Regions from separate parts of the Homo sapiens genome. Here region 2 is linked to region 1. A link means that fine-mapping ties the variant in region 1 to the expression of a gene that starts in the linked region. Tissue or cell type: whole blood. Region 1 holds a variant in brackets; the other region holds the start of a gene. All regions are shown on one strand. Distances are between the middles of the regions.

Region 1 (5,748 bases):
CTTAGCTGTCCCCAGCAGACTGTCCTCCCCGGGAGGTGGCCACAGCAGTGGGCTGAAGAACACACACTCTGGAGACAGAGTCGGGTGTGAATTCCAGTCTCACCACTAACATGCTGTGTGGCGCTGGGAAGGTCGTGCGTCCACTTTGTGCCTCTCCTGTAAAGTGGGATAACAGTACCCACCTTGTAGGACTGCTGTGAAGGTGAACCGACACCAAACCTGTGCAGTGCTCAGAACTGAAGCTGGCAGGTGGTCCACATGTCACTAGCTTTTATTATTTGTAGCCTGGAGTCTAGAACACAGGGAAGTACAAATTCTGAACGGAGCGCTACGGTGGCCCTTTGTGAATGCAGAGTGCTTGGATCTTCGGAGGAAGAGGCCTGTATGGGCAAGTACAGTTGAAGGATGTGAATATTTAACTGATTCAGGAAACATTCAAACACAAGAATAAGGAGAATGGACTTACAAACCCCATGCACGCAGTTCCCCAGCTTCATAATTACCGACCTCTGGCCCATCTTTTGTCTCCACGCCCTTGCTCCTCCCCGACAGACATGCTTGATTATTTTTAAGTGAATCGCAGATGTTAAGAAAGCAATTTATGCTCTGTAAAGAAAATTTCAAAAAGGAAAAAGATTATCCTACGGCACCTTCATTATGACCTAGGCTGGGGACAGGGATGAAGGAGGCATTCTTTCAGAGGTGAAGAAGAGGCTGGGAGGTCAAGCGGCAGCCCAGGGCTGCAGTCTGCGAGTCTGGGCCCTTTCCAGGACACCTGGGAAGGCTCACAAACCTCACACCAGCTTCCCCCCAGCCCCAGAGCCTATTTATTTTTTTTGAGACAGGGTTTCTCTCTGCACCTCTAGGCTGGAGTGCAGTGGTGTGATCACTGCAGCTCACTGCAGCCTCCATCTCCTGGGCTCAAGTCATCCTCTTGCCTCAGCCTCCAAAGCAGCTGGGACTATAGGCACATGCCACCATGCCCTGCTAAATTTTTAATTTATTGTAACGAGAGAGGTCTCACTATGTTGTCCAGGCTGGTCTCGAACTCCTCGCCTCAAGTGATCTTCCCACCTTGGCCTCCCAAAGTGTTGGGATTAAAGGTTTCAGCTACAGCACCCAGTCCCTAAGTAGCTCCTAATCATTTTTGAGCCAGCCTGAGATATTCCACCTCAAAAATAAAGTACTAGTTATCTTCTCTCAGTTCCGAAAAAAAATTAATGGATGGAATTCTTAAAAGTTTTCACATATTTTCTTTAAATCTATTGTCGGTGTCCACTTGCCTGCAACTGGGCACTGGTAGAATGCAGGGTGAATAAATAGTAAAAAAGATGAATGGGAAACCTTGGAAACAGCTGACCAGTGTAATCTGACAGCTTTCTGTGGACACATTTGCTTGTGGTTGTGATTTTATATTGTGCAGAATAATACATGCTCGGCTAGTAAAATTGTTCCTGCTTCATATGATGAAAGTACAAGCAACCTCAGCCCTGCAGCCGTGTCCACAGCGCCCTGTCTCCCGGGCACGTCTCCCCTGGCAGAGCTTCCCAACAGCTGCTGTGGCTGCAGAGAGCGAGGCCAGGGTGGGACCTGGGCACTGGGAGGGCCGACCGGGAAGAACGAGTTTGGACTCTCTTGCTACAATTCCCAAGAGCCAACACCCAGCGTGTGGCAGAATTTACACGGGAGAGGGAAGGAATGCAGCAAGCTGGCTTGATTCCTCTCTCGGGCAGACACAGAAGTGTGGCTAAGCAGAAAAGTAATTCTCATAAAAGAAATCCTCCAGAATAATTTCTTATTGAGCATAAAGCCCAAGACAAATCCCAAAGCTGGAAATGACAGCCGCGTCCAAGCACAGGGTTTCTCGGCTCCTTTTACTCTTGGCACACACACTTTCTGTTGACCCAGCCTGCACGCCCCAGAGTCAGTGCATCAGAACGCGCCCTGCTGAAGCTTGAGTCCCAGTCCTGGGCAAAGCCCTCCCTTGGTGGCCGCCCTTCTGGCTCTTCTACCTTGGTACAACAGCAGCACCATCCCTCAGCGCTGGGCACCTACTCTAAGCTCTGGAACAGTGAGACCTGATACGGATAACCTGGCCCGGGGCTGAGGGTAGAAAGAAGGAAAAAGGGAACCGGGAATTGACTTTAAAAGCTGCAAACCCGGAGATCAGGCGGGAAGGGAAAGGAGGCTCATGCCCGTCAGGGCTGTGATGACTCCCACACCCACCGTAAATCCTGGGACCCCTGGCCCTCGGGCTGCCTGCCATTGGAGTTGGCCTCTTGGGCACTGCAGACCTTGTCCATCTTTTCTAGCATTTGGGGACACACCTTGCCTGGATGATCAGCTGGGTGACACTCAAAGAAGGACACAGCACGGTTTTTAAATAACTTTATAATTTCCTGGTGGATTTAGTTTGTGAATAAAAAAGAAAAAATGAACAAAGTGTTTACAATAATTATCAAGGCAAAGTTGAATATAACACAATTTCTTTGTAATGTCATTATCCTGTCAGTAACACAACTCCAGCAGGAACACACACATACAGCTGAAGGCAGCGGGTGCACGTGCATCCCAGACACCACCATGGAGGCTGCTACTGTTACCAAAAGGAACTCAAGCTACAAGGGGGCAGGTGCTCCTCAGCTCCTCCACTAAAGTGCAACACTTCTCTTCTGACGCATCAGGGAGCAGTCACAGGCCCCACTGGATATCCTGCAATGCCCGGCAGGTGCCTGGGCTAGTCCTGCGATGGGCCAGCAGGCCAGAGTGGGTGGTGCTGCCCTCAGGATGTGTAGCTGCAGTAGATGGATGCAATACTGGCGTGGTGTGGAATGAGGGGCTGGACCCAGAGGGCCTGCTTTGGCCGGGGTGAATTCTCTGGCTTCAGTAGGGTTCACTTCCTTTCCTGACAGTGGCTTCTCTGGGGTCAAGAGAGAGCCTGGGCCTAGGAGATCTAGGGTCTAAAAAAGCTCAAAGGGAAATAATTGAGGGCCTGAAGCCAGAAGGAACTGACATGGAGGACAGTCTGTTCCACCTGGATTGCAGGCTCCAGGCTGGCCAGTGCTCACCCGTGCTGGGTGGTCACTGGAAGAGATAGCACCAAGTGGGCAGGAGAGGTCCTGTGGCCTGCCAGGCAGGGGCTTCAGGGTCAAGCCCAGGTTACCATGCAGTATTAGGCACACTGAGCTAGAACCCACGTCGGGTGAGGGTGGTTATGGGGTCACAAACTGTGAAACCTCTACCCAGAGGTCCTGAACATGTATAGGAAAATCCTGGCACAACTGCGAGGCTCTGAGCCCCAGATTCTCGTTCCTTTTGCTCGGCAGGTGTCTCTTGCCCAGGCAGGCACTACCCTAAGTGTGCTCCATGCTTCCTAAGCCGCCAGCCCAGGGCCACCTATGCCA[G/A]CCTGGGAGGAGGGGAGTGTGGCTGCCCCATAGCTTGAATTCCTTTATTAACAAGATATTGGTTTGCATTTTTAAAACACAGCTGTTTAATTTTTCATTTCTACAACTACGTTTTAATCTTTTAATAATCTCAACAACAGACACAATGTAACTGCCCCAATTCTCTGAATCACACAGACAATATCGACAAGCAGAGAAAGAAGAGAGGAGGTGGGATGGGACAAAAACCCGCTCCCCCAAATCAATCCCTAAAACCACTTCTCCCCCAAGAGTCAGGAGAAGTACCTACAACAGGGCCACAGCACTTGCCAAACACATTGGAAAAAATCAGGAGACAGTTGGTTACATTTTTGACACTAAAAAGTCTGGAGACGGTTTTTGCTGAAGAGTAGGTGAAGATAGCCATTTTGTTCAGAAGGATTTCCCTGTAATGTATGTCTTTTCTTGCAAGAAGAGTAGGTGAAGACAGCCATTTTGTTCAGAAGGATTTCCCTGTAATGTATGTCTTTTCTTGCCTAATTCTTCCCTAATTTGCATGGGGGAAACTCCAGATCCTCTTTAAGACATTCCTTTGAGTGGTTCACGTCCCCTCCTGAGCAGCCCAGGGCTGGCAGTGATGGACGGGCGGCCTCACTCTGCAGAGGGTGCCTGCTGCATTGCAGTCTCTTCTCATCCTTCCTCCTCAGTTCCGAACCCAGGCAGGTGAAGAGGAGGCCAGGAGCAGATGTTAAATTACTGGTATTTGCTGACACAGGGTCCGCTGGGCTTGAGAAATGCCATGTGGTGTCACACTCCACGCAGCGGTCTTCTCTGCTTGGCTCTTTCCTCAAAGACTCTGAGGGTCTTGACACCGGGCCTACACTCAAGTAACATGGTCAACAGGAGGGCGGGATGGTTCTGGGAGGAACAGGACTCTGGCAGCAAATCCAAATGCCAGTGGATGGGCGGCTCAGAAACATTTATATTTTGGGGTGACACATGATGGTTGCCTCACAACCCTGACCCTCAATAGCGGAGGGATTAGTTCAGCAGGTGGCTAAGACCGTGTCTGTGATGACTTCGCCTTCCTCTTCTCTCACTCTGGGGGTGGGTGAGCCCGCAAGTTCCTCATGGAAAACCAGACTTCAATGGACAGAAATTGAGGGGCAAGTCACAATGCCCTTCTTGACACTGAAGGCGGCCTTGGGTCCAGTCTGCTTTACAAGTTATTTCTAAAACCCAAGTGTGAGGAAGTCTGAGAGCCACAGGTAGATCTTTAGATTGTAAAGTGCAAGGACAAAGGTTAAAAGGTTAGAGCTGAGATGAATTTGGTGATTCCCATCCATATATATATATATATATATATATATATATTTTTTTTTTTTTTTTTTAAATGGAGTCTCTGTCACCCAGGCTGGAGTGCAGTGACACGATCTCGGCTCACCGCAGCCTCTGCCTCCCAGGCTCAAGCGATTCTCCTGCCTCCTGAGTAGCTGGGATTACAGGCGTACGCCACCACGCCTGGCTAATTTTGTATTTTTAGTAGAGTCGGGGTTTTTGCCATCTTGGCCAGGCTGGCCTCGAACTCCTGATCTCAGGTGATCCGCCTGCCTCAGCCTTCCAGAGTTCTGGGATTACAGGCGTGAGCCACTGTGGCCGGCCCCATCCATATTTCTTAAACATGTTAAAGCCCGTTCAAAATTTTTCCATTTCAAATGGTATCAAAGTCCTTGCAAATCTCAATTGAGATACCTCATCAATGATTCAATGAGTACCGGGGGTTAGAGGTATATGAAAAGATGAGAAGCTCACACTGGGCTTCTTCAGTTACAAAACCCCGTTGGGATCACACCCACTCTTCTTCGTGCCCTCTTTATGGTGACATTGGTTTGGGGTGCAGATCTTTAGGTGCTAAAGGGCAACTAGACTTGCCGATGGAGGGGTTTGGGGAAAATTAAGGGCAACCTGCACTGAGTTTTCAAGGCTATATAACTTCAGTAGCAGTTGTATGCCCATATGAAACCATGACCACTAGGAGAGGGGCATGGAATGACAAGTCCTAGTGTGATGGGAGTGGGACATTTGGTTAAGTGTTGGTTCAATGATCTAGACTCAATGAGACACTCTGAAAGCTACAAACTGCATCCACTCTGCCCTACAGCACGAAGGCCACGTTTATTACTGAACTCCTAGCCAGCCTCCAGTGCCCAAGAACGGTCAAGAAGATTCCTTGCTGTTCACAGAGACCAGACAGATGATATCGGTCCCGGAAATGCTTCTTCTCAGAAGCAGTGTCACAGAGGGCTTCCTTCCATCCGTTTTTCTGGAGGGGAAGTGATGGAGAATGCTGAGATGAAGAGGAGAG
Region 2 (5,748 bases), 500 kb after region 1:
TAATATATACTTATTAAGTAAAAATAGTATACACAGTTAAACTTCAAATGATGTTAGTGAACCAGCTAATTATGTGCCCAAACTGTTCTAAATACATGAATTAATTCATTTGACCAGCTTAAGAGGTTAGGTACTACTGTTATTATTTCTATTTTGCAGATGAAGAAATTAAGGTACAGGTTAAGGTTAGGAAATAAACAACATTAAGCAGTTTGCCCTACATCATACCATGGCAAAGCCAGGATTTGAACTCAGGCACTCTGACCCCAGAACCCAAACTCTAGTACACTGAAAGACTTGGTGAGCAACAGATTTCAATTACATTCCACACACAAAAAATAAATAAGAAAAAAAAACAAATTATATTCCACATAATCTGTATGCTAAGTTTATTTTACTATATGTCTCTGAAAACTGATAATCAATGTACTACTGATTCTTAAACCAAAATACTTCATTTCTTGATCTTTTTCCATTAATGTTTCTGATGAAATATGTGTAAAATACACATTTAACAACTCTCATACTTCTAAATGTAAACATAGTGTAAAACCGAGCAGCTGTTGCTATGAAAACCTTCACTTTTTTTTTTTTTTTTTTTTTTTTTTTTTGAGACGGAGTTTTGCCGTGACTCAGGCTGGAGTGCAGTGGTGCAATCTCGGCTCACTGCAAGCTCCACCTCCCAGGTTCAAGCAATTCTCCTGCCTCAGCTTCCTGAGTAGCTGGGGTTACAGGTGTGCACCACCACACCCAGCCAATTTTTATTTTTATTTTTTGAGATGGAATCTCGCTCTGTAGCCCAGACTGGAGTGCAGTGGCATGATCTCGGCTCACTGCAGCCTCTGCCTCCCAGGCTCAAGCAATTCTTCTGCCTCAGCCTCCTGAGTAGCTGGGATTACAGGCATGTGCCACCACGCCCAGCTAATTCTTATATTTTTAGTAGAGACAGGGTTTCACCATGTTGGCCAGGCTAGTCTCGAACTCCTGACCTCATGATCCGCCTGCCTCGGCCTCCCAAAGTGCTGGGATTACAGGCATGAGCCACGGCGCCCGGCCAAGAACCTTCACTTTTAAGTTTGCAGTATTAATGTTGAATTAACAGACTGGCATACTTATCTATGACACAGGTAATGAAGGAAAAAAAACACCTCAGTAGACTCAACAAGGATATCACAAGTAATGACTAGCAAGCAACATTTTTTGAAAAATAAAATGTAGGCATAATTTCAGGCACAAGAAATGCTAAACGAAATAGCTTACTTTTACCTTAAGACTTTCCCCAAATTATGTGATTTCATTCCTACAAGGACAAGAATCACAGCTTACTACCAGCCATGCAAATGTCATTTTAGGAGTACACACAAGTTTTACCCAGTATCTTAGTTCACATTTGTCCCAATTAATTAAGTCTATGTATAATTTAAAAGCGAAAACTAGATATGTCAATTTTGTTTTCCTTCTAACTAATCCAAAGTCAAAACTGTTCACTTTACCAAATGAATTAACTGAATACAGTTAATTAAATCTTTTATTTATAATTAAAAATTGGAACACACACTTTCTCACTTAATACCTATTATGTCCTGTTTCCCATACCTCTCTATAAAGTAGAAGTATTTGCTGGAAGACAATAATCTGCTCATTAAGTAGGCACTTAGAAAAAGCAACGATCTGCAACTACTGAAATTCTTATCTGTATATTTCTCTTTTGGGTTACAAGAAAGCACTTCTCTGGCTATTTTCCCAAATAAACTAGGCAAGCCTTGGGAAAGTCACTGCTTAAATCCCACTTTCTGACAGCTTCTCTTCCTCCATAAATGAATTATTGAGAGCCATGTCTACTTCCATCCATTACATAATACATGTCCATCATGGGACCTGTTTTCTGAACAAGAAATAGCTTAAATGACACTAACTGATAAGTAGGGCCAGAGAATACTGTAATCTAACAGGGAGCAAGAATCCAGAAAAGAAGATTCTGATTTACAGTGCTAAGTTGTGAAAGAGTGATGTGAAGAACATTGAACACTGCTTACTCTAATATTTCCATACAAAGTGACACACCTGCCCCCAAAATGTTTTTAAAGCACTTGACTCCAAGAACATTTCTCAGAAATTGAGGAGCCTACCAAAAAAAAAGAGTTCCATTTCATTTTAAAGTGTTTTAATAAAGACTGCAAGAAACATAACTGCAAATGAGAAATAAAATTTCAACAATTTAGCACTGAACACAAAATGTCTAAAAGTCAAGGTGTACTGAGCAAGCAACACGCTATAAAAGACGGTTGTACTTTAAAACATTTAAGCATTTTTCATATAATTAGCTCCAACAGAACTATTCCAATTGTTCACTTTATCCACCCAAAGCAGTCAACCACAACCACCTGCAACTATTATTCAGCAATGTGCCTTCCAAAGCAACCACCTGAGTTTGGGGCCTTCTCTCAAGGGGCCAGGATAAAGCCTGTAAAAGGGTGGTATAAAGAGATCTTTTAGGCATTGGGGGGAAAAAAAACTGGAAGACACCACCTTGAAGGAGCTAAGCGTAATGCGACCCAAATGGTGGCTGCCGGAACGAAGTTGTCTAAACCGAAGATCTCCCTCTTCTTCGGTGTAAAACTTTCAGATACATCCACGCTCACAATTTACCTGAGCCAAAGTAAGGGGATTCTCTTCCCTCTCCGACCCCCCACCCACCCCGCCAGAAGAAAAAGAATCGAACCCTAAAGTAGAAACGTGAGATCTAGTGCAATAAAATAGGTTCTGCAACTGCCTCAAAGGCAACATGCACAGCTCATCGTCCTTTTGAAATACACTTCATCTTTTATCTCACCATTTCATCGAAAAGAAAAGAATCATCTTCAGCATTTTACATCACTCACCTAACCCAAAGATCCACCCTGACCGCACCCCAACCTCATGGCTCCCCAATTTCTCCGTCTCCCCACTACCTCGTCCGCGGCTTCACTAGTCCTAAGCCTCCCCCCCTCCGCTCCCCAAGTGCCCAGAGCCCCAGTCCCCACTCCCCCACCTCCCGCCCCAGGATCCCCACATCTACCGCCTCGGCTCCCGCCCGATCCCGGAGCCCGGCTGGGTGGAGCCCGCGGGTGGGCGCCGGTGGTCTGGGTGGGGCCCGCCCCTCCCCACCCCCCGGGCTGCCGAGGAGGGGGAGGGGGTCGCGAAGCCTCACCTACAGCTCCGCCCCTCCCCGGGGGCGCGTTGCCCTGCCCAGCCCAGCCCGGGCCGTGAGCAAGAAGCTGGGTAGGAAAGGCGAAAGCCTCAGCACTAGCGACAGGGGGGAAGCTCTGGGTCCCGCGCGACTTCCGCGCTGTCGCCGCCGCCGCGGCCGTCTCACCGTCCTCAGGGCTGCCGCTACTGCTGCTGCTGCCGCCCAGGCACCGCCGCCGCCGCCACTACCGCCGCCGCCGCCGCCACAGCACGGCCCAGGCGCCCGCGACGTCACCGCGCCCCGCCCCCTGCGCGAGACACCTAGCCCCGCCCCCAGCCCCGCCGCGGGGCGCAGCGCGCCTCCCCGGGCTCCCGGCTCGGCTGCCTCCCTTTCCCTCAGCCTCCCGGGAGCGTGACGCGGCGGCCCGGGGGCCTCCGGGCGCCTTCCGGGGCACGCGGGTGAGGAACTGGGAAGCGGGGGAAATCGGCGCCACGGCGGTCGATTAGCACCGAAACAGAGTGATGGGCGCGGAGCGTCCCTGCACACACACACACACTCACACACACACACACACGACCCCTGCGGCCACGGGAGGGGAGAGCCGGGGTCGGCTCCGCGAGCGCAGGGTGGCGCTTGTCTCCTCCTGCTTGCCGTAGGAAGTGGACGCTGGAAGCCCGAGGAGCCGCTTCGTGTCTTCCCAAACCTAAGCGGCGCCCCACCCCCTACTTCTCGTGGCCCGTTACGCCCGGGGCAGCCAAGCGCCGCGGGAGCAGCGCCGGGATCGACCCTGGCTGCTGGGGGGACGCTTTGTCCCAAGAAAGCTGGTTTTTTGCCCCTTAGCTTCGTGGAACGCGGCCGCGAAATTAGTGGTCTTCTGACCTGAGACTCGCGGGGCTGCGCACACGGGCATCGCCGAGGACCCCAGCAATGGACGTCGTGTCTGTGGTGATCCCGCCAGGACGCGGGGAGCGTGGGCGGAAATTAGTGTCCACGTTCCGACCCTGCGCTGTGCCAAACGCTGCTTCGGGAGCTGTTTATTTAGCCTCCGACAGCTAAGCGAATCGGCGGGCGGCTGGGGCCTGGTGCAACCCGATTTTCTCGTGCAGACTCGCAGCCGGCTTTGGTTTTGTTTTTTGTTTTTTGTTTTTTTTTTGGAGCCATGCAGAGGGTAGCTACAGCCATTAATTTAAGGATGTAGATAAGCTATCTCTAAACCAAGAAAGTAAGAATGGTGTGAATTATATTTATTCCCAGCCTTCCAGTGTTTATTAAAATAATTTTCGGTGTCCTTGAGAGGAGTTAAAAGCCATCATTTTACTCCTGCTTACCTCCGCCACCGTAATTAACCACTTTATACTGCCTCATAATCCCATTAACAAATTGCAGTCGCTCCTCAGCCTTCACATTCATTCACTCACCAGTTTCTACTGTTTCATCCTGCCCGGACTCTTAACTGTTCCCTCCCAGGATCGACATGCACTTGGATCATTGCAGTTTCTGGGCCTGCTGTCATCTCCCCCTTCAGTACTTCCCACATATGACTACCAACTGTTAGACGATGTGCTGCTGCCAGACCAGCCTTTCATTTCTTGGACATCCGGCTATTTACCCAGGAAAAGTCATCCTTTGACTATTTTTCATGACCTTTCTCATCTGACTCGTGATCTGCCCATCTTGTTACTCCCTAGCAGTGTGGTAAGGTAAGAGAAAATTCAACTAGGAGTCAATAGATATTTCTGTTCTCATTCTCCCACTGTCTACTTGTGTGGCCTCAGGCAATTCATTCTACTTGTGGTCTTACTTAACTGTAAAGTGAGGTTTGAAGTAGGTGTCTGAGATACATCATGTCCTTAAAATATGTGGATCTGGAGAATTAAGTTGCTAAGCGCTATGTTATACACGGAAATACTGTCCTAACACAGATTCAGATTTTTGTTTTTTATTTTTTGCCACCACACTGGCAAAAAATATTATTTCCTGCCCTGCTCCAGTTATCTTTTTTAAAACCTACGTTTAGGATTTTTGATTAAAGCTAGCTAACCGAGCACATGTATTTACTGTCTCTTCTTCCTGAGACCCCATAAAATGATGATAAATAAAAGTGATACAAAATAGAAAATGAGAAGGGGGACATCGGAAGATAATTTTTTTTTATTTGACATGCAAAAAGTAAGTGTGGTCTGACAAAATAAAATGGAGAAAAGCATAATGTAGAATGGGTGTAGAGGGTGCTGTAGAAAGGAAGGGGACCTGTCAGCCCAGAAGTGCTTTAGGGAGACGGAGATTTGGAGATAACTACCAGACAGAGCAAGAGTGAGAAGCAGAGTTGAGACCAGGGAGACTAAATAAAGGTCTATATAAGGAAGAGCAGAACCCTCCCTATATCTCAGATACAATATCTAGGCATTTATCCAGGCTAAAATTAAGCACTCTGATAATCTGGGGAGATTTGGGTTAACTGAGTATTGAAGGGCCTAAGAGTAAAGTATTCTTTATTCTAGCACAATAGCTGGTTTCCTACCCACCCACTTTAAAGTGTAGTTGGGCAAGTTGGCAGGAACTTCCTGCTATGGTTTGGA

The links. PIP is the estimated chance that this variant, and not a neighbour inherited with it, causes the effect.
Region 2: ERC1 starts here. The variant in region 1 is fine-mapped to the expression of ERC1 in whole blood (INTERVAL, PIP above 0.99).

Annotation. Positions count from the first base shown.
Region 1 is chr12:1,492,558-1,498,305 of GRCh38, reverse strand. ERC1 (ELKS/RAB6-interacting/CAST family member 1) reads right to left here. Exons shown (of 19, transcript NM_178040.4): 19 at 2,375-5,748. Among named protein-coding and RNA genes, the nearest start is that of LINC00942, 5.1 kb to the left of the region's middle. The variant G/A (reference allele first, on the strand shown) is at 3,405.
Region 2 is chr12:988,930-994,677 of GRCh38, reverse strand. It overlaps ERC1 (ELKS/RAB6-interacting/CAST family member 1), which reads right to left and starts at 3,455. Exons shown (of 19, transcript NM_178040.4): 1 at 3,356-3,455. It also overlaps a transcript of RAD52 not described here. RefSeq lists silencers at 2,641-2,935, 3,141-3,650, 3,671-3,780, 4,191-4,240 and enhancers at 2,939-3,500, 4,062-4,624.